Linked DNA regions of Homo sapiens. The protein of the gene in region 1 interacts with the protein of each later gene in a pairwise test. Each region holds a gene or a part of one and is shown in the gene's direction. Other genes may lie near its edges. The genes, in order: TDP1, RNF111, XRCC1 and SPATA2L.

Region 1 (7,023 bases):
CCAAGCCCAGATAACACACTTTTGACAAGTGTGGCATCTATGGATACAAAAAACCACTAATGGTAATGAAGCATCTTTTAAACTTCTTAAAATTTCAACTCATAATAAGAAATACACTTTACATTTCAGTGTATTGTGCACTAACATACCTTTGTGCCAAAACAAAATTTCATGAACCAGTAATTAAATATATACAGTATACCAATTTATGCTATTTTAGTTGTTTAAAAAATGCCAGCCATGATGCAGCAAGAGGTTGTTGACCATACTTTGAATCTCAAACACCAGACCAGAAGGTTCCAACGGTCCCTAGTAGTAACAGGTAATGCTGAATAGATAATAAGGGGCCAGGCTGGAGGGATGTGAAGTGCCAGGACTGGCACTAGGGTTGAAAGTTCTTTTACCACCAAATACTCAACCTTTCTGAAAGGTTTTCATCCTATCACTTAGGCAGACTTTCATCATGGTAATGTATAGAAGGGAAGATTATAAATGTTAAGTTTGGGTAATATGAGAGTTTAAAAAAATTCCTTTAGCTATGTATTACATTTGCATTGGAAAGGTATTACATATTTTGAAAGTACTATTAATGCTTTTTGATCCTTTGCTGTTTTTAAAGGAAAATGATGCTGCTGCTCTATGAAGAAGGCCTCCGGGTTGTCATACACACCTCCAACCTCATCCATGCTGACTGGCACCAGAAAACTCAAGGGTTCGTAGGGGCCTGCTCACTTCCTGGCAGTGTGTGTGTTGATAAAGGTCAAAAGCCAGAACATTCACTTTATTCTTTTTTCTATTTTTTTTTTAAGTTGTAAAAATAACACACATGGCCTAGAAAAAGAGTTGTATGCAGAAAAAGTTACTGTATTCTTTTACTACCTGCCCCATTCTACCTTCTTGGGGTAACCAGTGTTAACAGGAGCATCATCATCCACAGCTACCTCTGCTGTACATGTAAACATACATTACTATTTACACACAGTAGTCTCTTCCTAGTTTTTAGAGAAGTGGCATCATATACACTCTACAGCTAAGTAGAGGGCACAGCACATGCAGAGATCTGAGGCAGAAAAGGGGTTACAGAATGAAAGATCTGAACCTATTGTTTTCCTAGTAGGATTTACCAGATAGCTTTTGTGATTTCTCCTTACTCATGTACCCACCTGTATTTTTGCTTACCACTTCCCAAACAGGAATCAAAGGAAAAGTTGGGGTAGGGCCTGGTCATGTTAATAGTGTGCTAAATATTTCCCCACTCCCCCAGTTGGTGTATTTTCTTTGAAACAAATTTAAGCTGGTGTCTTTTTAGAGCCTTTAGTGTGTTAATAAAGTTGTGAATCTCCAAGAGAAGAACTGAATACGAAAGCTTTTATGAACTTTTTAAACTACTAACCCTCTGTACTTGGTGCACATATGCTAGATCCAGGTTTTGATCCCCTTTTCAAGAGGGGTTTGCTTTTTAAAAGGGAGCTTTAGGGATTTGCTCAACAAGTTCAGCTATTGTTCTTGATTATGACTAACTTTAATTTTCTTTTGTTTAAGCCATTTTGTACATCTCTGCCTGTGCTAGAGAAGAGCTGGTTAACAAACAGCCTTCTGTGTTGGGAGAAACTCGGACGTTTGTCTAGCACCATTTCCAGGTTCACGTTTTCTCTGTCATCCTCCTCTGCCTCACCCTGCCCCATATCATTGCCTAGCTTGGGCTAGAACTCCTAATTTGGAGTGTATTACTTTCAGCTAAGCTCTGCTGAGCCCAGGTTACATCTTTGTTTTGTTTGTTTTTTTGAGACGGTCTCACTCTGTCACCCAGGTTACAATGCTGTGATGCGATCACGGCTCACTTTAACCTCAACCTCCTGGGCTCAGGTGATCCTCCCACCTCAGCCTTCTGGGTAACTGGGACTGCAGGCACGTACCACCACACTTGGCTAACTGTCTTTATTTTTTGTAGAGACAAGGTTTTGCCTAGTTGCCAAGTGATCCGCCTGCCTCAGCCTCCCAAAGTGCTGAGATTACAGGCATGAACCACCGTGCCTGGCCCCAAGTTACATCTTAGTTTGAGCTGAAATAGCTTTCCAGTTTCCTTCAACAGGTCTTGCTTCAACCTGAGTGCACTGCGCAGGACAAATGTAATCTCCCTCCCTTAAAGCAGTCCTTCAGAGTTTGAAAGGGAGTCTTGTTTCTGAGCCTTACATCTCTTGTTCCCTCCCCACTCCCTTGCCCCACCATAGCATGTGGCTTTGAGACCCCTAGCTGTAATTCCTGGTCGCTTTTCTATAAACATGTTATAATTTTTCAGTATCCCACTGAAAATATGCTTTTCAAAATGAAGTGTGGCTCTGACTGGTCCAGGGTTGAGGGGATAGCTGCTTGGTCTCTAAGTCTCAGCTGTAGCACTTTCTTGATCTACTGAATTTATGGTTAACTATGCCTTTGGTACCCCAAGAGCTTCTAAGCCAGTTCTCCTGAGCTGCCAGATTGGGTTTGGGGATTCATGTGGCCCTATCAAAAGGCAATGAGATTAATGTAGCTTGTTCTCATGAAACAATGTTACTAAAGGGATTTCTCAGGTTAGCTCTCAGCCTCACGTGGTTCCAAGAATCCCACCCTGGGCCTCCAGCTCCTTCTGAAGTTGGAAGCTTAGCTTACAGGCAGTAGTACTGTCTTGGGATTCTCTGGGGTGGTTGCCAGGAGGGAAGAGGCAGGGATAAGGGCTTGGGTGTTTCTTTTATTTAAAAAAAGTATTTTTTAATTTAAAATTTTGGAAAACTTATTGACTAGGTAGGAACGGTTCAAAACTCAGAAAGTACCAAGACTATGAAATCTTCCTCTGGCAGCCATCCTGGTGTGGGATCCTATTATTTCATGCTTGGCCTATATTCTACTCTCTAATGTTTTGCATTTCATGTTATTTGTGGTAATTTTAAAACTTTTGAAAGCAGTTTTTGTATACAATCTCACTTCATAATTGGTCTACTGTGGTTCTGCTAATCCCCTTCAGCTGCCTCATGATCCACCTGTTGATTTCTCACTTTTTAAAATTAGAACAAGAGTTGCATCCAAAGCTCACAGTAAAGAATAAAATAAAATTATTTGGCTCATTATAATAATTTTCTCATTTTGTGATGTGTTAAAAATGCCTCATATCTCAGCATCTTAGTTTAGAAAGTCATTTGTCTTGTTTCTCATCCAGAACTCACCTGTGAGTGAATCTCTGATCCAGGAGGAGCCTCACTCAGCCTGGGAACTTTGAGGTGCTATTGCAAGGGGAGGTCCTCCACGTCTGTCCAGCCCAACCTGGTCATTTTACACACGGAGGCAAAGGCCCAGAGAGATCACAGAGCTTACCCAAAATGGTATAGTCAGCTAGTCGATCTGGGTCCAGAACATGGGCTCCAGCCCTCATCACACCATGCTACCTCCTGTGCTAAGTGTCTCCCCAGGGTGGGAAGCAGGGGTATGAAATGCCCCTTGCTAGAAACTTGCAGAGTTGAGAAGATGTACGGCCGAGAGTCCTTGCAGTTCTGGATGCCTTCTGCCCTGGTGGCCTGCATCTTGCCAGTCTCCTTCAGGGGCTGCCAGGTGAAAGAGAAATTGGGCAGTTTCTCTTTCAGCTTAATAGATAGAACCCAGGGTGGGGAAAAGGAGAGTAGCCACAGAAGGGGAAAAAAGTAACACCTGATACTTTTGACTGCTCCTGTAAGTCATTGCTTTGCAACAGCCCAGTGAGGCAGCCTTGTTAACCCCACTTTTTTGCATTTGAAGAAACTGAAGCACAAGAGGTTTGAAGCCATTTTAGTAATCTACTGTGGAGCAGTTTATAGAAGGATTGGGATTAGATATGATTGTTTTCTATTTATGGATATAATGTAGAAGTTTTGGCAAAGAGCATTGTTTTCCTCTAGGGAAAAAGAATTAATGAAATGAAAGATGTCTGTAATGCTTCTTCAGTGAATTAAGTGTTGAAAGTTTGAGGTTATTGTAATGTCACTGAATGTGATATATACTTAATCCAGGCACCAGAAAGTATAAGACATAAAAATATGCTGCTATAGGACCTACGTTATGAAAATGGGTTTGTTAATTGAAAATAGATTTTTCACATGCACTTTTGGTATAGATAACACAATTCTTATTTCACATTTGGCTGAAGAGCTGCATTGATGCAGACAAGGGCAAATTCTTGCTTGGGATTACCACTAGTAGCATGGATTTGCTTTAACCGTTAAGAGTAGAATTCTTAACTCTTGTCATCAAGTCTTAGAAAGCAATATATAGGTGCAGAGGTAAGAGGAGCAATAAGGAAGGTTTGGCAAGTGAGAGGGAGCATGGAGGGATGTGGGTTGGAAGAGGTGGGCAGAGCCCAGGTCTTACTGAATCTTAAATTCATGGCAAGACATTCAGGAATAATTCTGAATGTGATGAGAAACCATTGGAGTGGTGTTCTCAGATTTATGTTTCATGTTTCCTAAGATTACTTACCATGTGGAGATACCGAGAATTCACCTCTTTCTTAGGATGAAGGCATAATCGATACAGAGATCATTATGATCAGTTGTGTGCCTGACTGTTAAAGGTTATTTTTTTAATTCCAGAATATGGTTGAGCCCCTTATACCCACGAATTGCTGATGGAACCCACAAATCTGGAGAGTCGCCAACACATTTTAAAGCTGATCTCATCAGTTACTTGATGGCTTATAATGCCCCTTCTCTCAAGGAGTGGATAGATGTCATTCACAAGCACGATCTCTCTGAAACAAAGTATGTGTCAGCTTATCAATTTGGGGTGCTTATGATAGGCTTATACCTTGGGAGCCTCATGAGGTCTGGCATGCAGGGGCCTGGAAAGAGGTGGGGTGAAATCTAGCCAAGCTTCAGGATGTGATGAGGGGATGAGCAGATTCTATCACATCTGTATCTTGTGGTTCTCAGGCATTAAAGTGACAGCCAGTGAATCCTCATGTTTACCTTAGCCTCCCACTGGGTTACTCTCACAATTATTGAGTTCTTTGTCTGGTACTTTACATCTTGTAGGCATTCCATCATTAGTTGATTTGCTTGAAAATGAATTTGAGAGTCAATTCAAGAAAATGGATTGGCTCTTAGATCATTTCTTGATTATATTAGTTTTCATGTGTATTTTGTCATTTTTTTTGGTGCCCAAAGCACATCACTATATTTTATAACTTGTGTTTTTATGTCTTTTTAGTGTTTATCTTATTGGTTCAACCCCAGGACGCTTTCAAGGAAGTCAAAAAGATAATTGGGGACATTTTAGACTTAAGAAGGTAACAGAACTTTTACTATTTTAACATTTTTAAAAAATTTAATGTATATTCTCTCTTTTAAAATAATTATATATTTTGATGCAGCTTCACAATATTTCTGCACAATTCTGGGCAAATAGATACTTGATAAATTGATAATTATAATTCTTAGTAATTACTGCTTTTTAATGTGTTTTGCCTCTTTTATAGCTGTAGGCTGTTAATGGCATAAATATATAGACCTTTTCTAGTTTTTATATTGTAATAAAGATAGAGGCTTCCTATTCATACACATACTGTAGCTTTGATTATAGCTTTTGATTGTTCAGCATATCAAGTTTTAAGATATAAATTCAACAAACAGAAAATGTTGAGTAAAGACTACAACTGAGCTATAATATATTTTGATTATTAAACCAGTGCCCTTAAGAAAACAAATTCAAAAATAATACTTGCTGCTGATATGAAAATGCACGAAGAAAGGTCATAAAATAAGTTGAAGATTAAAGTTTTTTTCATCTCTTTTTAGGTGGTTTACTGACCTTAATAAATTCCCTGGCCAGGTGTGGTGGCTCACGCCTGTAATCCCAGCATTTTGGGAGGCTGAGAGGGGCGGATCACAAGGTTAGGAGTTCAAGACCAGCCTGGCCAACGTGGTGAAACCCTGTCTCTACTAAAAATACAAAAATTAGCCGGGCATGATGGCAGGCACCTGTAATCCCAGCTACTCGGGAGGCTGAGGCAGGAGAATCGCTTGAACCCGGGAGGCGGAGATTGCAGTGAGCTGAGACCACACCATTGCACTCCAACCTGGGCAACAGAGCGAGACTCCGTCTCAAAAAAATAAATAAATTCCCTAAAGTGGCTTTCTTAAAAGCCTTAACCTCTTATTCCATAAACTATTTAAAGTCTAAGAATTTTCCCTTGGTTAATGAAACTTTTTATTTTAATTTCCTTTTATGAAATGAGACCACAGCTTAAAGCAGGCAAGATCTTGAAGACATCTTTATGTCTTGGCCTAGAGAGGAAGTTCAGCACATTGGCCTGTGCCCAGTCTTGGAGGCAGATATCCATAGCTGGGTTCAAACCCTGCTTTGTTATCTACAAGCCGTGTGACCTCGACTTGTTCCTTAACATACATCGGTTGTCATCTATAAAGTGGACATAATAATAGTACTTCCCTCCCGTGATTGTGAGGATTAAATGAAATGATGAATGTAAAATAGTACAGGGCACACAGTAAGTCTTCAGTGCACATACACAGTTGTTTGTGGACAAATGTCTAATGGTTTAGATAGGCTAGATAATAGCACGTATTATGTGTGATCACCATCTGATACTGAAAGTTCAACTGTATGTTAAGAGTTTTCAAACCACTTTTTACACACAGTTGCTCATGTTGCACCACAGCTTTCTTCCAGGAAGGCCGGCCGGTGATTAGGTGCCTGTTTCCACTGAAGTGTAAATCTAAGCCAGAGGCTTGTCCAGGATAGGGTGGCCCTTCAGGGGCTGAGCACTGCAGTAGAAACTGGGTGTTGTAAGTTGTCGGTTCAGCTCTGTTTCCTACACCATGCTGTACCCAAGGTGGACATGGAAACTTTGGGCTTTTTGGGAAGTGTATGTGTAAGTATTAATGCCTAACCTGTGTTAAGGAAAATAATACATATTAAATTAAACAAAACGTCAGTCAGATGAGCTACAGTTTATTTTTCTGCTCTCTCCAGCCCTCTAGGTAGGCATTCAGTACATATTTA
Region 2 (7,023 bases), on another chromosome or scaffold:
GTTAAATGGTAGACATATTTCTAGTTGATTTTCTGATAATCTCTAAAACTTTTGTAGAAAAATGCCAAGTCATCTATGGCTTTTTTTTTTTCTTTTTTCTTTTGTGTCGGAATTTTGCTCTTGTCTCCCAGGCTGGAGTGCAATGGCGCGATCTCGGCTCACCGCAACCGCTGCCTTGCGGATTCAAGCGATTCTCCTGCCTCAGCCTCCCGAGTAGCTGGGATTACAGGCATGTGCCACCACGCCTGGCTAACTTTGCATTTTTGGTGGAGACGGGTTTTTTCCATGTTGGTCAGGCTGGTCTCGAACTCCCAACCTCAGGTGATCTGCCTGCCTTAGCCGCCCAAAGTGCTGGGATTACAGGCGTGAGCCACTGTGCCCGGCCGGCTTTTTTTTTTTCTTTTAAAATCTTATTTCTTTAGAGTCATGTAAGCAATCATTACATTTTTATTTAAAGTTGAAACAAGTATTCATATTTATAATTGGTGGTGAAGCATCATACCAATAATAGTGTATCACAGTTTAGAAGTAGAGTTCCTCAGAGTTGTATGGATAGTCTTAATGGGTTTTTCCTCCTTTTGCTCACATAAACTTGTTTATGATGTGAATTACTAAATCCCAACCCTAATTTTTAGTTTTGAAAGTTAGTATTTTTTTTTAGCTATCGTATTTTCTTAGTGCAAGGTTTACTAATAGTGGTGTATTCTACACTAGTATCAGGAGTAATTAGCATGCAGTCATCATGACATAGCAATGAAATGATTGGATCGATCTACACAAAGAGGGACTAGTATTATGGTTTCAGTATTGAAACAGTGTGTAACAGCAAGCCATTTATAATGTCACCAAGGAGATATATCTTGTACGCATTTGCCTCCTTTGTAAATTAGATCAGCCAATAATTTTTACAAAAATAAAAGACTAGAATATGGTTTTATCAAACAGCAAATAATTTAGAATATTATCTGTTATATTTGCTGCTTTTTAAGTTAAATGCAATACTTGTGTTTATTTCCTTTTGAACTTTCCTCTTCTAAGTTCAAAATACAGCCTGATACAATTACAGGGATGGATTTTAGAAAAAAAAATTTAGAACATGATACAATACAGCGATGGATTTTAGAAAAAAAAATAGTATGAATTACTCCCTGGGTGGGAACCTCTTAGTTATATGGGATATTAATTTTGCATTTAATGACTGCATGATATGTTAACTCAGAGAAGAGTTAACTGGTGTACAAACACACACCACAGCATACACCAAACCACCCCCCCTTGCTCTCCTCTACCCTTGTCTCATTGGACAGACTAAACTGATCAAAAATCAGAGCAGATTTAACCATAAAGAGTTGATTGCATTGTTTTGGCTTTGGGACATGAAATGATGGAAAAGAAATTGGGTTTAGTTAATTGTGCTGTGAATTGCTTCTTTGTAAATTAATGTATGGCTGCATGTTCTCAGAATTTGTCTGGTTTTTGGCAAGTTTTCATTGCTTCTCATGATCTCCATTATCAACATGAGGACTTAGTAATTACGGATGAGGAGTCTAATTTTTAAATCTTCAGCCCATAAAGACTCCAAGATCTCCTCCTCTGAAATCCACCAGAACATAACTCTGACATGGGTTTCTGGAAGAACCCCAGCTGTTTCCAACATACATCATGAGACTTCTGTTGCTGATGGAGTCTCTGATGCCTAGAAATCTTGATACTTTTCCTCTTGACTTTTTCACTTTTTTTAAACCTCTTGACTTTCTGGCAGGAGTTTTATTGAGATTTTATTTCACTGGGTTTTTAGTATATTCACAGAGTTGAATAGCTGGCACCACAATCAGTTGTAGAACATTTTCAGTTCACTGAAAATAAAAGAAATTCTATACCTTTTTTTCTTTTTTTTTTTGGGAGACAGAGTCTTGCTCTGTTGCCCAGGCTGGAGTGCAATGGCGCAATCTCGGCTCACTGCAACCTATGTCTCCTGGGTTCAAGCGATTCTGCTGCGTCAGCCTCCTGAGTAGCTGGGATTACAGGTGCCTGCCACCATGCCTGGCTAATTTTTGTATTTTTAGTAAGACAGGGTTTCTTTTCACCATGTTGGTCAGGCTGGTCTCAAACTCCTAACCTCAGGTGATCCACCCGCTTCAGCCTCCCAAAGTGGTGGGATTACAGGCGTGAGCCACTGCACCTGGCCCACCTTTTTTTTTTTTTTTCCCCACTCTTGTTGTCCAAGCTGGAGTGCAGTGGTGTGATCTCAGCTCACTACAACCTCTGCCTCCCTGGTTCAAGCAATTCTCCTGCCTCAGCCTCCTGAGTAGCTGGGATTACAGGTGCACGCCACCATGCCCGGATAATTTTTTGTATTTTTAGTAGAGATGGGGTTTCACCATGTTGGCCAGGCTGGCCTCGAACTCCTGACCTCAGGTGATCTGCCCGCCTCGGCCTCCCAAAGTGTAGGGTTTGGCCACCGCGCCTGGCCAGAAACTCCATGCTTTTCGGCCATCATAGTTGAATCCTCCGATGATCCCCAGCCCTAGGTAACCACATTCTATCTATGTAGATTTGCCTATTCCAGACATTCCATATAAAGGGAATCTTACATTATGTTATCTTTTTGACTGGTTTCTTTTACTTAGCATATTGTTTATCCATGTTGTAGCTTGAGTCAGTATGGTAGTCTGCGCCCCTGTCCAAGGGGAAACCATTCTGAGTCCCCCAGTGGATGCCTGAAACCATATAGTGTTTTTTTTTTCATATACCTACATGCCTATGATAAAGTTTAATTTATAAATTAGGCAGAATAAGAGACTAACAACAACAATAAAGTAGCAAAATTCTAACAACATACTGTGATAAAACTTATGTGAATGTGGTCTCTCTCTCATAGTGTGAGTAACTGAAGCTGTGGAAAGTTAAACTGGATAGTGAGGGACTACCGTACTTCATTTCTTTCTATTGCTGAGTAATAATCTTTTGTATGGATTTATTTATTCATCAGTTGATTGGCATTTGTGTTCCCACTTTTTTGGCTGTTATGACTAATGTTGCTGTTTATAAGTTTTTTTATGAATATGTGTTTTCATTTCTCTTGGGTACATACCTAGGAGTGGAAATGCTAGGTCACATAGCAATTTTGTGTTTAATTTTTTTTTTTTTCTTGAGATAGAGTCTTGCTCTGTTGCTCAAGCTGGACTGTAGCGGTGCAGTCCCAGCTCACTGTAACCTCTGCCTCCCAGGTTCAAGCGATTCTCATGCTTCAGCCTCCCAAGTAGCTGGGATTACAGTCAGTGCGCCACTATCCTGGCTAATTTTTGTATTTTTAGTAGAGATGGGGTTTCACCATGTTGGCCAGGCTGATCTCGAACTCCTGGCCTCCAGTGATCCGCCCGCCTTGGCCTCCCAAAGTGGTGGGATTACAGACATGAGCCACCGCGCCCAGCTTGTATTTAATTTTTGAGGATCTGCTAGACCGCTTCCCAAAGTAGCTTGTATCATTTTACATTTCCATCAGCAATATATGAGGGTTCCAATGTTTTTTTTTTATGCATCCTCTCTAACACTTGTTATTACCTGTGTTCTTTATTACAGCCATCCTGTTTGGCCCCATTCAACTCTTAGATCACATGTACCTGTGTTTTATCATTGTGACTTCTGTGTTCTTGCCTTTAATTAAAGTGATCCTTGTCTGACTGGCTGCCTTCTGTAATTTGCTCATTGCCATGCTCATGTTCACTCATCTTTGTATTCCTGGTTTATCACTGATCCTGCTGAACTACAGATAGCGCGTGATGGCTGATCTTGGATACAGCACTGCCTGTGCTTGTGAATAAGAATAAAAGAAGATAGTGGTTTTGATAGCTTTCTGTAGGAATAGGTCATTCTATGCCTTAATTATTGTCATTTGTTCTGATAGTAAAGTTATATACTATAGTAACATGGGAGACCTGTAAGATTATATATTTCTGTAACCCATTTGTAGAGAGGGAAAATACTTGCTTACTAAACAGCTGTTGTACTCGCTTTTTAGGAACTGGTTTCAAAATGTATTTTATGGGCAAAACAAATCTGTGGTGTCAGAAGTTACAATAGTGGTTAACAGTTTGGTGGGCTGTAGTAATGGGAAGAAGATTTCTAGGGTGCTGGTTATGTTGTTTATCTGTGTGCCAGTTACATAGAGGTGTTCATTTTTTTAGTGTTCATTCATCTATAAACTTAGAATATGTGTGTATGCTATACTTAATAAAAACTTGTTAAAAATATGTTAACATTGTTTATTCATGTTTTGCACTAGTAAAGCTCTTCATTTGTCACATTTACTGCCTTTCTGATTAATATATTTCATTTTGAGTCATGATATTTACTATTACATTATTTTCATATGTACATTGCATTGATGTAAATGCTTTAAATTCAGATCTCTTTTTGGCAGCTCGTAATTTAAGATGTTGAATGATTTAGATAGATTAGCTGTACAAAGTTTGATTTTATGTTCTGCTGTATTGTTTATTTAACTGAATGATCTTCAGCAGCCCACAGTCTTGGCTCTAATCTTTTTGTATTTAAAACTGAAATGCAGTAGTTGTGTCTACTATCAGGAGAATTCAGATTCTCATTAGAGAATTAATAGAGTAGTATGAAGGAAAAAAAATAGAAAAGAGAAGCTTATATTCATTAGCTCATTATTAATAATATCAATCTAATGTAGTAACCATCTAGATGTACAGAAACATTTAATAATAACCACTTAAAAATGTCATACCAGGAGTAAAACATGTTGACTAATTAGTCTTTTGAATTCGAATCCTTTTATTTATATTTCACTGAAATAGGTTTTGAAGTAATTGTTTGATTTGACCAAATATGTTTTGTTGCTGAAGGTAGTGAGATATGCAATAAGATCAGTTTTTGGTTAATAGAAGTTTTTAAGTAGGCTTATGCTCTATATCTACTGTATTTCTAAAAATTGGATGCATGAGTAGAGTGACCAGAGAAAAACGTTTTATAAGAATAGTAAAATAATTCATAACAGACATTTTGTGTACTGATGAGGAAAAGACAGTTCTGCCTTTATAAGGGATCTTCTTGGTGGAATTTGAGAACTCTTCAATTAAATAGTATAATAAAACACATTAAAAATCTTTTAAATATCTAATTTTGTCTTCTAGGCTTTCCTTAAAGTTTCCCATGTCTCAATGGACTCCTGAATATAACGAGCTCTACACCTTAAAAGTGGATATGAAGAGTGAGATTCCTTCTGATGCACCAAAGACACAGGAGAGTCTGAAAGGGATCCTTTTGCATCCAGAGCCCATTGGGGCAGCCAAAAGTTTTCCTGCAGGAGTTGAGATGATTAATAGTAAAGTGGGGAATGAATTCTCTCACCTGTGTGATGATTCTCAAAAGCAAGAGAAGGAAATGAATGGTAACCAGCAAGAACAAGAAAAAAGTCTCGTTGTGAGGAAAAAACGCAAAAGCCAGCAGGCTGGCCCTTCGTATGTGCAGAATTGTGTTAAAGAAAACCAGGGAATATTAGGACTGAGGCAACACCTAGGGACACCAAGTGATGAAGATAATGATTCCTCTTTTAGTGATTGTCTTTCTTCTCCTTCATCTAGTCTGCATTTTGGAGATTCTGATACTGTGACTTCAGATGAGGATAAAGAAGTCTCTGTAAGACATTCCCAGACCATTTTGAATGCTAAAAGTAGAAGCCATAGTGCACGGTCTCATAAGTGGCCTCGGACTGAGACAGAATCTGTATCGGGATTGTTAATGAAAAGACCCTGTTTACATGGCAGTTCGTTACGGAGACTTCCATGCAGAAAGAGATTTGTAAAAAATAATTCCTCACAGAGGACACAGAAACAAAAAGAGAGGATATTAATGCAGAGGAAGAAACGAGAAGTGTTAGCTCGAAGAAAATATGCCTTGCTACCTAGTTCTAGTAGTTCCAGTGAGAATGACCTCAGCAGTGAATCCTCTTCTAGCTCATCAACTGAAGGAGAAGAAGATTTGTTTGTTTCTGCCAGTGAAAACCACCAAAACAATCCAGCTGTTCCCTCAGGTAAAAATGTTTAAGCTGAGTAAAACATGGAACCTATTGCATTGCATTTGTGCTTAATTTTTTGTTTGTGTCTTACTGATTTTATTTAAAGGGACTATCAGGTTCTATTAACTTTTATTTTTAAGTCATATAAATTACCAATTGCAGTATTAAACCATGACTCTAATGCTAAGATAAAAATTTAAAAAATTTCTAGTGACAAAAATAAGTCAGAGTTTTTTGGGAGAATAACCCTTCATTACTTTTTTTTTTCTGAAACAGAGTCTCACTTTGTCACCCAGGCTGGAGTGCAGTGGCGCAATCTCGGCTCACTGCAACCTCCGCCTCCTGGGTTCAAGCAATTCTCCTGCGTCAGCCTCCCAAGTAGCCAGGATTACAGGTGCCCACCACCATGCCCAGCTAATTTTTGTATTTTTAGTGGAGACGGGGTTTCACTATGTTGAACAGGCTAGTCTTGAGCTCCTGATCTCAAATTATCTGCCCACCTCAGCCTCCCAAAGTGATGGGATTACAGGCATGAGCCACTGTACCTGGCCTCATTTATTACATTTTATACATATTAGATTATATTTTATGTATGTTCTTCATTTATGGTACACATTTTTTTCCTTGTGTTTCTTTAATATGCTTGACTGTTATGAATACTTTTTCAGCTACCTGTATGATGGATTCAGCCATAGTAAGAACAGTTCTAGTCACTAAAAAAGACTGGTTAATTTTTTTTCCTTTGTTTTTTTGAGGCAGCATCTGGCTTTGTTGCTCAGGCTGGAGTATAGTGATGCAGTCTTGGTTCACTGCAACCTTCACCTCCTGGGCTGAAGCCGTCCTCCCACGTCAGCGCCTCAAGTAGCTGGGACTACAGGCCCACACCACCACACCTGGCTTATTTTTGTATTTTTTGTAGAGATGGGTTTTGCCAAGTTGCCCAGGTTGGTCTTGAACTCCTTAGCTCAGGCGATCCACCT
Region 3 (7,023 bases), on another chromosome or scaffold:
CCATCCTACCACATTTAGGAGCTATGCTGAATATTGTGGGAGAGGTAAAGATGTTGAGTTTGACTCAGGGATGGAAAGAAAGGAGTTGAGAACAGTGGTGGTATTGGACAGTGCTTTGCAGTCAGGCAGTTGCGTCCGAAGTACTCTGCTAGTTATTAGCTTGTGTGCCATGTAAGCTATTGATTAAACCTGTCTGAGCCTCAGTTTCCCCATCTGTGAAACTGGAGTCGTAACAGACCCTTCTATTTAAAGTGGTTTTGAGGCTTCAGTGATGCCCGGCCCATGCTTAGCCAAGTGTGGTGGACAGAACAGTGGTGCTCAAAAGATGTTCATGTCCTCATCCCCAGAACCTGGAAATATTTTAATGGCCAAAGGAGCTCTGTGGGTTTGATTAAATTAAGGATCTTGAGATGGGGAGAGTGCCCTGGATTATCTGGTGGGCCTCACGTAACCCCCAGAGGCCTTATAAGGGAAAGAGGGAGGCAAGAGAGCTGGAACCAGAGCTGTGAAGATGCAAGCAGAGCCTGGAGTGATGCCAGCGCTTTCAGCAGCTTTGAAGACGAGGAAGGGACTGTGAGCCAAGGAAGGCAGGTGGCCTCGAGAAGCCGAAGATGCAAGGAGACACGTTCTCCTCTAGTGCTCCCGGAAGGAAGGAATGCAGCCCTGCCGCATCTAGATTTTAGCCCTGTAAGGCCGAGTTTCAGACTTTTGACCTCCAGATCTGTAAGATATTAAATTTGTGTGTTTTTTTTTTGTTTTTTTGAGACGGAGTTTCGCTCTTCTTGCCCAGGCTGGAGTGCAGTGGTGTGATCTCGGCTCACTGCAACCTCCGCCCCCCCGGTTTAAGCAATTCTCCTGCCTCAGCCTCCTGAGTAGCTGGGATTACAGGCATGCGCCACCACGCCTGGCTAATTTTGTATTTTTAGTAGAGACGGAGTTTCTGCATTTTGGTCAGGCTGGTCTCGAACTCCCTACCTCAGGTGATCCGCCTGCCTCAGTCTCCCAAAGTTCTGGGATTACAGGCGTGAGCCACTGCGCCTGGCCAAATTTGTGTTTTTAGCCACAAAGTTTGTGCTAATTTGTACAACAGTAACAGGAAACTCATACACCAAGCACCTGGCACATGGTGAGAATCCGAAAATGTTAGCCATGATGATCCTCTTGTGACAGATGGGACACCCAGGCAAGCAGCAGAGAAGGGGCTCAACAGGGCCACTTGGTAAGGGAGGACAGAGCCAGAGTTACTGCTTAATAACTCTTGAGTAGTAACTTCTGCAAACGGTTGCTGGGCGCCTGTTCTGCGTCTGTCTGTACATCCATTGGGAATGCAGTAGAGGCCTGCTGTGTTAATGATATTCGCAGCTGACATTTATGTAGTGTTTGCTCGGTGCCAGGCAGTATTCCAGGCACTTGGTATGTTATTTCTCATTCTTGGTATGGATTTGAATGTTCTCAACAACTTTATGAGATAGACGTTGTTATTGTCCCCATTTCATAGGTTCGAAAACTGAGGCACAAGGGGTGAAATGAAACCATTTGCTCCAGGATCACACAGCAGGAAATCAGCAGAGCTGGGAAGGACCAGACACTGTTCTTGGCCTTGGGGACACAGTAGGGAACAACTCAGACGATACTGTCCTTGCTCTTGTGGAGCTTAAAAGTCTGGCGGGAGAGACAGATGCTAGACAAATACAAACAAAAAAGATGTAACTGTGTAACACCAGGCAGTAATCATGAAGAAAAGTAAAGTCGGGTAGGGAGATAGAGAGTGGCACCAGGTAGGGGGCGAGGTAGGTTACTTATGGTCTGAAGTGACATCTGAGTGGGCACCTGAAGCACAGAAGGCAAACTTTTACCCAGCTATGGATATGTTTGAGGGAAGAGTGGTCTAGGCAGGGGGATTGGCAGGTGCAGAGGCCCTGAGGTGGGAAGGAGCCAGACTGTTCTTGGCACAGAAGGGAGGCCGTTGTGGCTGGTGGAAAGTCACCAAGCCTGGCCTGGGGAGCAGTCAGACTGGGACTTCTTGTTATTGTTGTTTTTGTTGTTGTTGTTGTTTTTGAGACAGAGTCTCACTCCATCGCCCAAGCTGGAGTGCAGTGGCACAATCTCGGCTCACTGCAACCTCTGCCTCCCGGGTTCAAGTGATTCTCCTGCCTCAGCCTCCCCAGTATCTGGGATTACAGGCGCTCACCACCATGCCCGGCTAATTTTAATTTTCATATTTTTAGTAGAGACAGGGTTTCACCATGTTGGCCAGGCTAGTCTCAAACTCCTGACCTCAAGCGATTCACCTGTCTCAGCCTCCCAAAGTGCTGGTATTACGGGTGTGAGCCACCACACCTGGCCCAGACTGGGACATCTCATGAGCCCAGGCAGCACTGTACACTGCCCAGGGCCCAGGGCTGGGAATGGCGGTGGAGGCAGGGGAGTCAGCAGGAGGTCTGCCGGCCTCAGCCTTAGGCAGGCCCTTCCTCCAGCACCATCTTCCTCCTCTAGCACGTCAGTGGTGTGATGGAGGAGCACGCGTGGACTGTTGCCAGCCTGCCTGGGTTCCGGTCCGGCTTTGCCACCCACCAGCTGTGAAGTTACATAACCACTTCCTGCCTCCGTTTGCTCATGTGTAAGATGGAGATAATTATAGCAACTGCCTGGCAGAGCCATTGCAGGAGAGTAGATACATGTATTATTAGCAGGAGTCTGGCACACCAGGAGCGCTCAGTGCACTCGGATGTTGGCCGCAGTTGTGGTTATAGTTGTTAATTCTGTGTCATCTCAACTTCCTTCAGAGGGAGGGTAAGTTTTTTTTTGAAGACAAGGTCTCATCACTCTGTCGCCCAGAGTACAGTGATGCGAACATGACTCACTGCAGCCTTGACCTCCCCAGGCTCACGCGATCCTCCTTCCTCAGCCTCCTGAGTAGCTGGGACCACAGGTATGTGCCACCATGCCTTGCTAATTTTTGTAATTTTTGTAGAGACAAGGTCTGGCTATGTTGCCCAGGCTGGTCTTGAACTCCCAGCCTCAAGTGATCCTCCCACCCCAGCCTCCCAAAGTGCTGGTTATAGAGACGTGAGCCACTGCGCCTGGCCAAGGAGGGAGGGTTGTTAATGACCATCTTCCCTTTTTGCATGTGAGGAAACTGCCTCACAGAGACGTTGAATACGTCACCCAAGGTTGTGCAGGTTGGAAATGGCATTGCTGTATTTGAGCCCAGGCCTACCTCACCCCAAGTCCAGGCTCCCTCCTTCCATACAGTGGTGTTCCTGTTGATAGCAGTGTGCAGGTGATGTCTAGATGATCTGACAGGGAGGCAACAGAGCAGATTGGAGCATCTGTCATCACCAGGGGTGGGAGAGGGCAGTGTAGGGTGGACTAGGTACCTTGGTTTTTTTTTTTTTTTTTTTTGTGACAGAGTCTCGCTCTGTCACCCAGGCTGGAGTGCAGTGGCATGATCTCTGCTTACTGAAACCTCTGCCTCCTAGGTTCAAGAGATTCTTGTGCCTCAGCCTCTTGAAGAGCTGGGACTACAGGCATGTGTCACCATGCCCGGCTATATTTTATATTTTTAGTAGAGAAGGGGTTTTGCCATGTTGGCCAGGCTGGCCTCAAGTGGTCCACTGCCTTGGCCTCGCAGAGTGCTGGATTTACAGGCTTGAGCCACTGCACCTGGCCCAGGTACCTTTGAGAGTTGTAATAATGCGTCATTCTAGGATCCTAATAAAAGAGCCCCAAACTGGAAGGCAGGACACTTGCCTCAACCTAACTGCCTCCCGTGCCCGCATGGCCCGCACGGCTTTCTGCATCTTCATCTGTCAGACAGGAATGGCAGATCCTTTGAGATGAGCCCTCCTATAGGTAGCTCTTTTCTTCTTTCAACAAATAGTTGTCTAGCACTGACTAATAATACCTCCTGACTGACAGCAGATAATTGCCTACTCTTCGCCATGCCCTGTGGCCATTATTTATGTGCATGATCCTAGATATGGTGGTCATTCCCATTTTACAGATGAGAAAACTGAGGCTCCAAAAGGTTAACTGGTATGGTCATACAGCTAGTGTGCAGCACAGCTGGGATTCAAACCCAGGAACCAGCGGTGAGCAAGATCGGACAAAGCCCCTGCCCTCAGGGAGGTTTCCTGGAGTCCTCTGCGATTGTGGGTGAGGGGTGACATGTGCTGTTTGTCTGCATGATGATTTGAATAAAGTTATAACTCTGGCAAGTGCTTATCAAGGAGAGCTCTATGGCAGTGTGTGATAAGCTGACCTGGTGGAGTCTGGAGAGGTCAGGGAAGCAGGTATGTGTGAGGTGGGCGCGTATGCATTCATTCAGTGACTATTTTGTGAGTTTCTGCTCCATGCCATACCCTGTGCTGCATGGAGGGGACACATGGCACCATTCAACCCTGGTGTGCCCCCTCACAGAATTGACATTACAGGGACATGGTGATCCAAAGGAGATTCATCCTGAGGTCCCACAGTGAGCCCAGAGGCAGAGCAGGCACTGACAGTGGCCTCTCTCTCTGCCCACAGTTGGAGAAGGAGGAGCAGATACACAGTGTGGACATTGGGAATGATGGCTCAGCTTTCGTGGAGGTGCTGGTGGGCAGTTCAGCTGGAGGCGCTGGGGAGCAAGACTATGAGGTAAGCAGGGCTATGAGATGGATCCCATACTGACCTCTGCCCCTCATGCTCGCATCACCGTCTCCCCCAGGGGCTGGGGCTGGGAAGACATGGGGCAGATGTGAGTCACACCTGATTGCTGCCCTCTGGAGGATCACCCAGTGTACGGAGGAGACAGAAGGCAGACACAGGGCGGTAAACTGCACATCAGGGAAGAGAGCAAGTTTGGATCATGGCTTAAAATGACACAAATGTATTATTCGACTGTTCTGGAGGTCAGAAGTCTGAAATCACTCTCACTGGGCTAAAATCTAGGTGTAGGCAGAGCCCTGTTCCTTCTGGAGGCTCTAGGGGAGAATCCATTTCCTTGCCTATTTCAGCTTCTAGAGTCCATCTGCCCTCCTCAGCTTGTGACCCTTCCTTCATCAAAGCCAGCACTCCTGTCACTCTAACGCCTGCTTCCACTTCCATTGTTACTTCTCCAACTCTGACTCTCTTGCCTTCTTTTTTTCTTTTTCTTTTTTTTTTTTTGAGACGGAGTCTCGCTCTGTCGCCCAGGCTGGAGTGAGTGCACTGGCGCGATCTCAGCTCCTTGCAACCTCTGCCTCCCGGGTTCAAGCTATTCTTCTGCCTCAGCCTCCCGAGTTGCTGGGACTACAGGTGCCCACCACCACGCCCGGCTAACTTTTTTTTTTTGTATTTTTAGTAGAGACGGGGTTTCACCATATTGGCCAGGCTGGTCTCGAACTCCTGACCTCGTCATCTGCCCGCCTCAGCCTCCCAAAGTGCTGGGATTACAGGCGTGAGCCACTGCGCCTGGCCTTCTTTTTCTTTTGTTCATTTTTTTTTGAGACAGGGTTTCATTTCCGTTGCCCAGGCTGGAGTACAGTGGCGTGTTCTCAGCTCACTGCAACTTCTGCCTCTGAGGTTCAAGTGATTCTCCCACCTCAGCCTCCCAAGTAGCCAGGGCTACAGGTGCACACCACCACTCCTGGCTAGCTTTTGTTATTTTTTATAGAGAGAGGGTTTCACTGTGTTGCCCAGGCTGGTCTCAAACTCCTGGGCTCAAGTGATCCACCCACCCCAGCCTCCCAAAGTGCTAGGATTACAGGCATGAGCCACCACACCCAGCCCTCCTTTCTTATAAAGACCCTTATGATGACACTTGGCCTACCCGGATAATCCAGGGGCATCTCCCCCATTTCAACATCTTCAAGTTCATCACATCTGCAAAGTGCCTTCTGCCACATTTCCAGGTTCAGGGATTAGGATGTAAACATCTTTGAGGAGCTGTTATTCTGCCTGTCTCCTATGTTTTCTTCTAGAAGCTTTCTATTTTTAGATTTTACATTTAGATCTCTGTTTCATCTCAAGTGAATTTTTGTGTATTGTGTGAAGCAGGGGATAAGGTTTATTTTTTCTGTATCTTTTTTTTTTTTTTTTTTTTTTTTGAGATGGAGTCTCACTCTGTTGCCCAGGCTGGAGTGCAGTGGCGCGATCTCGGCTCACTGCAAGCTCCACCTCCCGGGTTCACGCCATTCTGCCTCAGCCTCCGGAGTAGCTGGGACTACAGGCACGTGCCACCATGCCCGGCTAATTTTTTGTATTTTTAGTAGAGACAGGGTTTCACTGTGTTAGCCAGGATGGTCTCGATCTCCTGACCTTGTGATCTGCCCACCTTAGCCTCCCAAAGTGCTGGGATTACAGGTGTGAGCCACCGCACCCGGCCCTTTTCTGTATCTTTTTTATATGTTTGTTGACAATGCTTATTTATTTATTTTATTTATTTTAAGACAGAGTCTCACTCTGTTGGCCAGGCTGGAGTGCAGTGGCATGATCTTGGCTCACTGCAACCTCCGCTTCCCAGACTCAAGGGATTCTCCAGCCTCAGCCTCCTGAGTAGCTGGGACTATAGGTGTGAGCCGCCATACCCGGCTAATTTTTTAAAAAATTTTTTGTAGAAATGGGGTTTCACTACATTGCCTGGCTGGTCTTGAACTCCTGAGCTTAAAGTGATCCTCCCACCTTGGCCTCCCAAAGTATTGGGATTACAGACCTGAGCCACTGCACCTGGCTGAAAATACTTTGAAAAAAAAAAAAAGACTTGCCTTTTCTCATTGAATCATTTTGACTCCTTGTTGAGAATTAATTAACCATATGTATGGGTTTATTTCTGTACTCTCTTCTCTGTTCCATTGATATGTATAGTTTTCTTTATGCCAATACCAAACTGTCTCTTTTTTTAACCATATTATTTATTTATGTATATATGTATTTATTTATTTATTTATTTATTTATTTGAGATGGGGGTCTCACTCTGTTGCTCAGGTTGGAGTACAGTGGCATGATCTCAGCTCACTGCAACCTCTGCCTCCTGGGCTCAAGTGATCCTCCCGCCTCAG
Region 4 (7,741 bases), on another chromosome or scaffold:
TGGGGCAGAGCTGGAGCATCTGCCCCAGCCCTCGATACGAACCCCAGCTGGCCACGGTGCCTTGGAGCTTGGGCTGCTCCGGCCTCAGCGTTGGTGTCTAGAAGATGGGATTTTAAAGTCCGCTTCATAGAATGGTGGAGATGAGCTGTGTCTTGAACAAATCCTGGCGTGGGAGCCCCTGCTGGCTTGGCATCGGGGCCACACCTGCAGCCTGCACACTGTGGGGGCCGGGAACGTCCTGGCTCAGCTGTATCCCTGGCGCTGAGACCCGGCAGACATGTTCAAGTGCTGCTGTTTGCTGTGCAGCTTTGCCCTCGCTGAGCCTGCAGCTCCCCCATAAGACAGGAATGAATAATAGCAGCTTCCTTTTAGAAATCCTACAAATGGCCGGGCGCGGTGGCTCACGCCTGTAATCCCAGCACTTTGGGAGGCCGAGGTGGGCGGATCACGAGGTCAGGAGATCAAGACCATCCTGGCTAACACGGTGAAACCCCGTCTCTACTAAAAATACAAAAAATCAGCCGGGCGTGGTGGCCCGCACCTGTAGTCCCAGCTACTCGGGAGGCTGAGGCGGGAGAATGGCGTGAACCTGAGAGGCAGAGGTTGCAGTGAGCTGAGATCGTGCCACTGCACTCCAGCCTGGACGACAGAGAGAAACTCCGTCTCAAAAAATAAAAATAAAATAAAAAGTAATGGCTGGGCGCAGTGGCTCATGCCTGTAACCCCAGCGGTTTGGGAAGCCGAGGCGGACGGCTCTTTTGAGGTCAGGAGTTCGAGACCAGCCCGGCCAACATGGCGAAACCCCGTCTCTACTAAAAATACATAAATTAGCTGAGCGTGGTGGCGGTAGTCCCAGTTACTCAGGAGGCTGAGGCCGGAGAATTGTTTGAACCTGAGAGGCAGAGGCTGCAGTGAGCCGAGATCACGCCATTGTACTCCAGCCTGAGCACAGAGCGAGACTCCATCTAAAAAAAAATAAAAATAAAACTATTCTGCATAAGCAGTGTCCAAATCATAACAAAAATCAAATGAAAAGTAAACAAGATGTAACCTTATATCCATTGGACCGGAGAAGATGAGGAAGCTGGACGATGCTGAGTACAGGAGGGGGAGGGAGCTCACGCACACTGTGGGGTGGACACGGCAGTGGCCCCAGGGGACCAGGTGCAGTCCTGGAGTCCAGGTAAGTGTGGACGGAACCTCCGACCTGGCAAGGCTGCTGCCGGTTTTAGAGGATGTATATGCAGTGGAGGCAATGGAGTGTCTGTCCCGGGAGGGCAGGGAAGGACGGAGAATCCACACGGCAGCTCATGGAGTGTCCATCCCCGGGCAGGAAGGGAGGGAGCCGTGAATGTGTACAGCCCACGTAGCCACCGCTGCCTAACAAACTACCCCAACTCAGGGGCTTAAATACTCAAGACGCCAGGCATGGTGGTTCACACCTGGAATCCCAGCACTTCGGAAGGCTGAGGCGGGGGGATCACTTGAGCCCAGGAGTTTGAGACCAGCCTGGGCAACATAGTAAGGCCCCCCTCTCTACTAAAAAGTTAAAAATTAGGCTGGGCACCGTGGCTCACGCCTGCAATCCCAGCACTGTGGGAGGCCGAGGTAGGTGGATCACCTGAGGTCAGGAGTTTGAGACCAGCCTGGCCAACATAGTGAAGCCCTGTCTCTGCTGAAAATACAAAAAGTACAAAAATCAGCCAGATGGCTCCTCAGCATCATGGGAGGCTGTTTCTAGGTGGTAACCCAATGACCAGGGGTTGGATTCATCCGAAGAGCTGTCTGCTGTCTATGGTTGGTGCCAGCTGTCGGCTGGGACCTCATTCAGGGCTGTCGGAACGACGACGTGAGGACTGGATGTGTTGCCAGGGGCTGCCAAAACGACCACAAAATGGGTGGCTTACAGCAACAGAAATGTTCTCTCTCACCATCTTGCAGGCCTGAAGTCAAAATCAAGCTGTCAGCAGGGCTGACTCCCTCTGGAGGCTTTAGGGTAGAATTCTGTTTGCCTCCAGTTTCTGGTGGCTCTAACACAGCTGTGTTACCTTCGCTCACGGCACCCTCGTTCCACTCTGCCTCCGTCTTTAAGCGGTCTTCTCTCCTGTGCGTTCATATCTAAGTTTCTCTCTCCTCATAAGGACAGCAGTCATACTGGATTGAGGGCCCATGCCAACCCAGAACAACCTCATCCTTTTTTTTTTTTTTTTTTTGAGATAGAGTCTTGCTCTGTGGCCCAGGCTGGAGTGCAGTGGCGCGATCCCGGCTCACTGCAAGCTCCGCCTCCTGGGTTGACGCCATTCTCCTGCCTCAGTCTCCCGAGTAGCTGGGACTACAGATGCCCGCCACCACGCCCAGCTAATTTTTTGTATTTTTTAGTAGAGATGGGGTTTCAGTGTGTTAGCCAGGATGGTCTCGATCTCCTGAGTTCGTGATCCACCTGCCTCGGTCTTCCAGAGTGCTGGGATTACAGGCGTGAGCCACTGCGCTCGGCCCAGAACAAACTCATCTTGATTTTTGTCTGGAAAAACTATTTCCAAAAAAGTCCCAAGAATAGGCTGCAGGTGAATGTGAGTCGCAGGTCGAAGTTGCAGGCCAAAAGCTCTGCACACGGCCGTGGCCTTCTCACTCTAGTGGCTGGGTTCTGAGGGTGTGTTAGTCCGTCCCCATGCTGCTGTAAATAGCTGCCTGAGGCTGGATAATTTATAAAGAAAAGACGTTTAATTGACTCACAGTTCCGCATGGCTGGGGAAGGCCTCAGCAAACTCACAATCATGGCAGAAGGCGTCTCCTCACAGGGCGACAGGAGCGAGAATGAGCACTGAACAAAGGGGAGAACCCCTTATAAAACCATCGGATCTCGTGGAATTCACTATCACGAGAACAGCATGGAGGAAGCTGCCCCCAAGATTTAATTATCTCCACCTGGTCCTGCTCCAGACCTGTGGGATTACAATTCAAGATGAGATTTTGGGTGTGGATACAGAACCAAACCATGTCAGAGGCCAAGGATCTCAAGACAAGGCCAGGGTATGGCATGTTTATGATTTAGCCTTGGAATTCATTCCACATCAGTTCTATTCCATGGGTTGAGGCAGGTGCAAAAACCCACCCAGGCCTATGGGAGGAGAGCTAGGCCCACTGCTGGATGGATGGACTGGTGTTGCCAAATTCAGTGAGGACAAAGGCAGAACAGTTACCTCCACCCTCCTCCGCATCAGAAGAAGAATAAAGATGAGACTTACGAAGTTAGCTGTCCTGAGGACTGGTGTGGACCCATGGTGGCACTGGGCACCAAGAGTGAGTTCAGTAAACAGTAAGTAAAAGAGCTCCCTGTCCAGAGGTGGCCACCTAGATAACTCAGGGAGATCCACCGACTGCATCACGATTTTTTTTTCCAGACATTCTCGCTCTGTCACCCAGGCTGGAGTGCAGTGGCACGATCTTAGCTCACTGCAACCGCAACCTCTGCCTCCCAGGTTCAAGTAATTCTCCTGCCTCAGCCTCCCAAGTAGCTGGGCTTACAGACATGTGCCACCACGCCCGGCTAACTTTCGTATTTTTAATAGAGACGGGGTTTCACCATGTTGGCCAGGCTGGTCTTGAACTCCTGACTTCAGGTGATCCGCCCGCCTCGGCCTCTCAAAGTGCTGGGATTACAGGCGTGAGCCACCGCACCCGGTCATGATCACTATTTCTAAGATGCCAGCAGGGAACTTCCAGGTAAAAAATCTAAGAAAAAGGGGGGACCTCGCCGCCCAGGCCCAGGGAAAGTTTCAACAAACTTGGGCCTTGGTTTTGGTGGCCTGGAGAGATGAGGGACACAGACGTGAAGTAGCAAAGCCTGCCCAAAGCGGGGGTGTGGGGTAGGGGTGGGTTTCGGCTGGGACCTCCAAGGGTCTCCCTCATCCTCCTCTACTTCTGGGCAATGCGAGAAAGTGGCTGTAGCACAGAACAGAGGAACCCGAGCGAAGAAAACGTCCCCGGGAAGTCGTGGCCCAGATTTAGCCTGGGTGGATCCGCAGCCCAGGTCAGCTTTTAGCCTAGAGAGGGGGGCGGCTTCGCCCTGCCTCAGAGACCCGCCCAGACGATGCTCTCAAGGGCTGCAGATGGCAAGTGCAGGAGGCCGGGAAGCGGAGCCAGCATAAACAGAATCTGAGGTCCCCGCATCCACCTGAGGCTGCTGTTTCAGACGAGGCTGAAAGGCTTGTCCTTCCGCCCACCTTCCGTGCCGCGGGCCCCTCCCTCAAGGGGATGGCCCCGCCCCACAGGGGAGGCCCGCCCCCGGATCCGGCCAATCCCCGCCAGGTAATGCAGGTGGCCCCGCCCCGCAGGAAAGGCTCTTCCCAGGATCCAGCCAATCCCCGCCAGGTAATGCCGGTGGCCCCACCCCCCAGGGGACGAGCCCGCGCACCTGCTTCCCCGCGGCCGGGTCGCCTGGGGCTGGGTCCCTGTCTCGTGGGGAGGAGCGGCCCAGGCACAACGTTCCCTGAGCGCCTGCCATGAGCCCGCAGCCCTCGGCCCAGCGGCGTCGTGAACGATACCGGTCCCGCGAGGAGACGGGCGACGCGGTGACAGGAGGCTCTCGGGGTGCCTCGCGCAGGGGCTCGGCCGGGCTGACACCTCCTCCTCCCCTTTCACCAGGCCCCGCCCCTCCTAAATTATTCGGAGGCGGGGCCTGCGCCAAGCCCCGCCCCGCCCCCAGCGTCACGGCCGCGGACCCCGGGCGGAGCCGACTCCCGGCGGAAGCGCGCGGCGCGCGGGGAGGCCCGAACTGATCCGCGGCGGCCGGAGACCGCTGGGGACAGACAGGTAGCGCCGTCACCCGCGGGATCCGCAGCTCCATCTGCCGGGCGAAGGGGCTCTGGTCGGGAGAGGGCTCAGCGGGCGGAAGCGCGTCTCTAGAGAAGGGTGCGGTCGATAACCGGGGGCGCCCCTGGAAGGCCGAGGTACCCAGGCTGGAGGGAGGGGCTGGAGGTGCGGGGGCGCTCAACTGGAGGGGCCTGGATCGCTGGGTGGGCGGGCAGCTGATGGGGCCGAGGTCTCCAGCGTAGGGGGTGCCGAAGATACCGGGGGCGCCCAGCCGCTGGGGGCGGGGTCTCCAGGCTCGAGGGGTCCTGGGGACGCTGGGTGAGGGTTCGGGGAGAGCGCGGCGGGCTGGGCGCGGCCTTAGGTCCCTGACCCCCCCGACCCCCGTCCGCCGCAGGATGGGCAGCAGCTCGCTGTCCGAGGACTACCGCCAGTGCCTGGAGCGCGAGCTGCGACGGGGCCGCGCGGGCGTGTGCGGGGACCCCTCGCTGCGCGCGGTGCTCTGGCAGATCCTGGTGGAGGACTTCGACCTGCACGGGGCGCTGCAGGACGACGCGCTGGCTCTGCTCACCGACGGGCTGTGGGGCCGCGCCGACCTGGCGCCCGCGCTACGCGGCCTGGCTCGCGCCTTCGAGCTTCTGGAGCTCGCCGCGGTGCACCTGTACCTGCTGCCCTGGAGGAAGGAGTTCACCACCATCAAGGTAGGCGCCAGGCCAGGAGGAGCGCGCCCCTCGTCCTGGCCTGCGGGTCGCGGGGCCGCCGACCATGGGGGACCACGCCTTTCGAGAGAGAGGGGCTTCAAGTGTCCTCAGTGCCTGGTGGGCTCCTCAAGGCTCCGAGCGCTGAGGGGTCGTGGGCGTGTGGGGGCACCCACTCCTAGGGCTGAGAACATGGGGTGGGCGAGGGCAGGCTTGGGTGCTGCCTACGGGGTCCTGCCCTGAGAGCTTGCGTCAGTGTCTTCCCTAAGAGGCCTCGCGGCCCCAGTTGCCATGGAAATCTTAGGACGGGGGCACAGAAGGGACTTGAGTTCCCATGGTCATCCTAATTCCTCCAGGTTATGGGCCAATCCCATTTGCAGAGGAGGCCGCCGAGGCTGGGAGGACTGCAGATGGGTGCATCCCTGTGAAGTCTCAGGGCTGGGCTCAGACCTAGTGAACTCCACGGCCTGGGGCGGGAGGCTGTGCCCAGGGCTGGCCTGGCCTCTCCAGGTGAGCTCCTGGCGGCAGGAGGGGGCAGGGCCGCCGGGAGCTCTGAGCTAATTCGGAAGAGTAGGAAGCCGATGACGTCACTGGGCACGTGGGCGAGCTACGCCTCCGCCGGTTGCCATGGCAGCGGCAGTCTCTCCGCGGCTCCCCGGGGACACCTGCTGGTCGGAGGCGCCAGGACTTTCATTCATGAGAGAGGACGGACAGGCCCGCCCTTGAGGCCTCCCAGGGGGCGGGGCGGGGGAATAACCGGCTTCAGTGCCGGACAGCCCTGGTTTGGACTTAGTTCTGCTGCTTCCTGGCCGCGAGGACTTGGCCAAATTAGCTAATCTCTGTCAGCCCCTTTCCTCCTGAGACAGCGACACGGGAACAGTCCAGTTCATGGGGCCAGAGGAATGAATCAAAGCCCCGAGCTCAGTGCTGCAGGCACTGGGCGCTCCACACGTGGGCCGTGTCCAGGCATTAGATGCTAGGAGTCCCGGAGTTAGGGAATTTGAGAGTCAGGAGACGCTCGCAGTGATTGTCCTGAGCTCCTTTAGTTCTTCACCTAAGTGTAGGCTAGAAAGCACTCAGCCAGGCCGGGCGCGGTGGCTCACGCCTGTAATCCCAGCTCTTTGGGAGGCCGAGGTGGGCAGATCACGAGGTCAGGAGATTGACACCAGCCTAACCAACATGGTGAAACCCCGTCTCTATTAAAAAATACAAAAATGAGCTGGGTGTGGTGGCACGCGCCTGTAATCCCAGCTACTCAGGAGGCTGAGGGAGGAGAATCACTTGAACCTGGGAGGTGGAGGTTGTAGTGAGCAGAGATCGAGCCACTGCACTCCATCCTGGTGACAGAGTGAGACTCCGTCTCAAAAAAAAAAAAAAAAGAGCACTCACCCTTCTACCGTCCCACGGCTGTCAGCCCAGTGCATGGACAGCCTCTGGAGAGCGCTGAAAACAGACGTGTCACCCCCATGGTGGAATACTACACAGCAGGGGGAATGAACGTTACAGCTTCTGTCCTTGTCTGCAAGACTGTAGTGGAAAAAAACAAAGTTCAGAACAACACGTTTAAGAGGCTACCTGTCTAGCTTTGGTTAGAGACCTTACAAAGAGGTGAAAAAAAAGGGGGGACTACCTCATACGAGGAGCAAACGAAATCTGTATTTGGGTTTGCAAAACAAACACCTGGGCAAGTACATTCAAAACTAATTAGATGAGGCCATCTCCAGGGGTGAAGGGAGCGGTGGGACAGAAGACAGTGGAATTTCTCAGTACAGGGGCTCTTCATTTTGTTCTGATTTGTGAGCTAGGTTAATGTATTCATTGTTTTTTCCATTAAATTTAAGAAATTCGGCCAGGTGCGGTGGCTCACACCTGTAATCCCAGCACTTCGGGAGGCCAAGGTGGGTGGATCATGAGGTCAAGGGATCAAGACCTTCCTGGTCAACATGGTGAAACCCCGTCTCTACTAAATATACAAAAATTAGTGGGGCGTGGTGGTGCGCACCTGTAATCCCAGCTACTCAGGAGGCTGAGGCAGGAAGATCGCTTGAACCCGGGAGGAGGAGGTTGTAGTGAGCCGAGATCGTGCCACTGTACTCCAGACAGAGCGAGACTCTGTCTCAAAAAAGAAAAAAAAAAAAAAATTCTAGGCCGGGCACAGTGGCTCACGCTTGTAATCCCAGCACTTTGGGAGCTCAAGGCAGGCGGATCACTTGAGGTCAGGAGTTTGAGACCAG

What was found.
Region 2: the proteins of TDP1 (region 1) and RNF111 interact in binary tests that used the Homo sapiens proteins (3 or more experiments, as listed by UniProt).
Region 3: the proteins of TDP1 (region 1) and XRCC1 interact in binary tests that used the Homo sapiens proteins (3 or more experiments, as listed by UniProt).
Region 4: the proteins of TDP1 (region 1) and SPATA2L interact in binary tests that used the Homo sapiens proteins (3 or more experiments, as listed by UniProt).

Annotation. Positions count from the first base shown.
Region 1 is NC_000014.9:89,979,921-89,986,943, forward strand, and holds part of TDP1 (tyrosyl-DNA phosphodiesterase 1), read left to right. Parts: intron 1-619; coding exon 620-712; exon of another isoform or gene 713-759; intron 760-1,542; exon of another isoform or gene 1,543-1,640; intron 1,641-3,193; exon of another isoform or gene 3,194-3,356; intron 3,357-4,595; coding exon 4,596-4,763; intron 4,764-5,211; coding exon 5,212-5,290; intron 5,291-7,023. UniProt on the Homo sapiens protein: DNA repair enzyme that can remove a variety of covalent adducts from DNA through hydrolysis of a 3'-phosphodiester bond, giving rise to DNA with a free 3' phosphate.
Region 2 is NC_000015.10:59,025,645-59,032,667, forward strand, and holds part of RNF111 (E3 ubiquitin-protein ligase Arkadia), read left to right. Parts: intron 1-5,159; coding exon of another isoform or gene 5,160-5,178; coding exon 5,179-6,058; intron 6,059-7,023. UniProt on the Homo sapiens protein: E3 ubiquitin-protein ligase. Required for mesoderm patterning during embryonic development. Acts as an enhancer of the transcriptional responses of the SMAD2/SMAD3 effectors, which are activated downstream of BMP.
Region 3 is NC_000019.10:43,558,528-43,565,550, reverse strand, and holds part of XRCC1 (DNA repair protein XRCC1), read left to right. Parts: intron 1-4,530; coding exon 4,531-4,641; intron 4,642-7,023. UniProt on the Homo sapiens protein: Scaffold protein involved in DNA single-strand break repair by mediating the assembly of DNA break repair protein complexes. Negatively regulates ADP-ribosyltransferase activity of PARP1 during base-excision repair in order to prevent excessive PARP1 activity.
Region 4 is NC_000016.10:89,698,699-89,706,439, reverse strand, and holds the start of SPATA2L (spermatogenesis-associated protein 2-like protein), read left to right. Parts: upstream 1-4,734; 5' UTR 4,735-4,812; exon of another isoform or gene 4,813-4,949; intron 4,950-5,206; 5' UTR 5,207-5,207; coding exon 5,208-5,510; intron 5,511-7,741.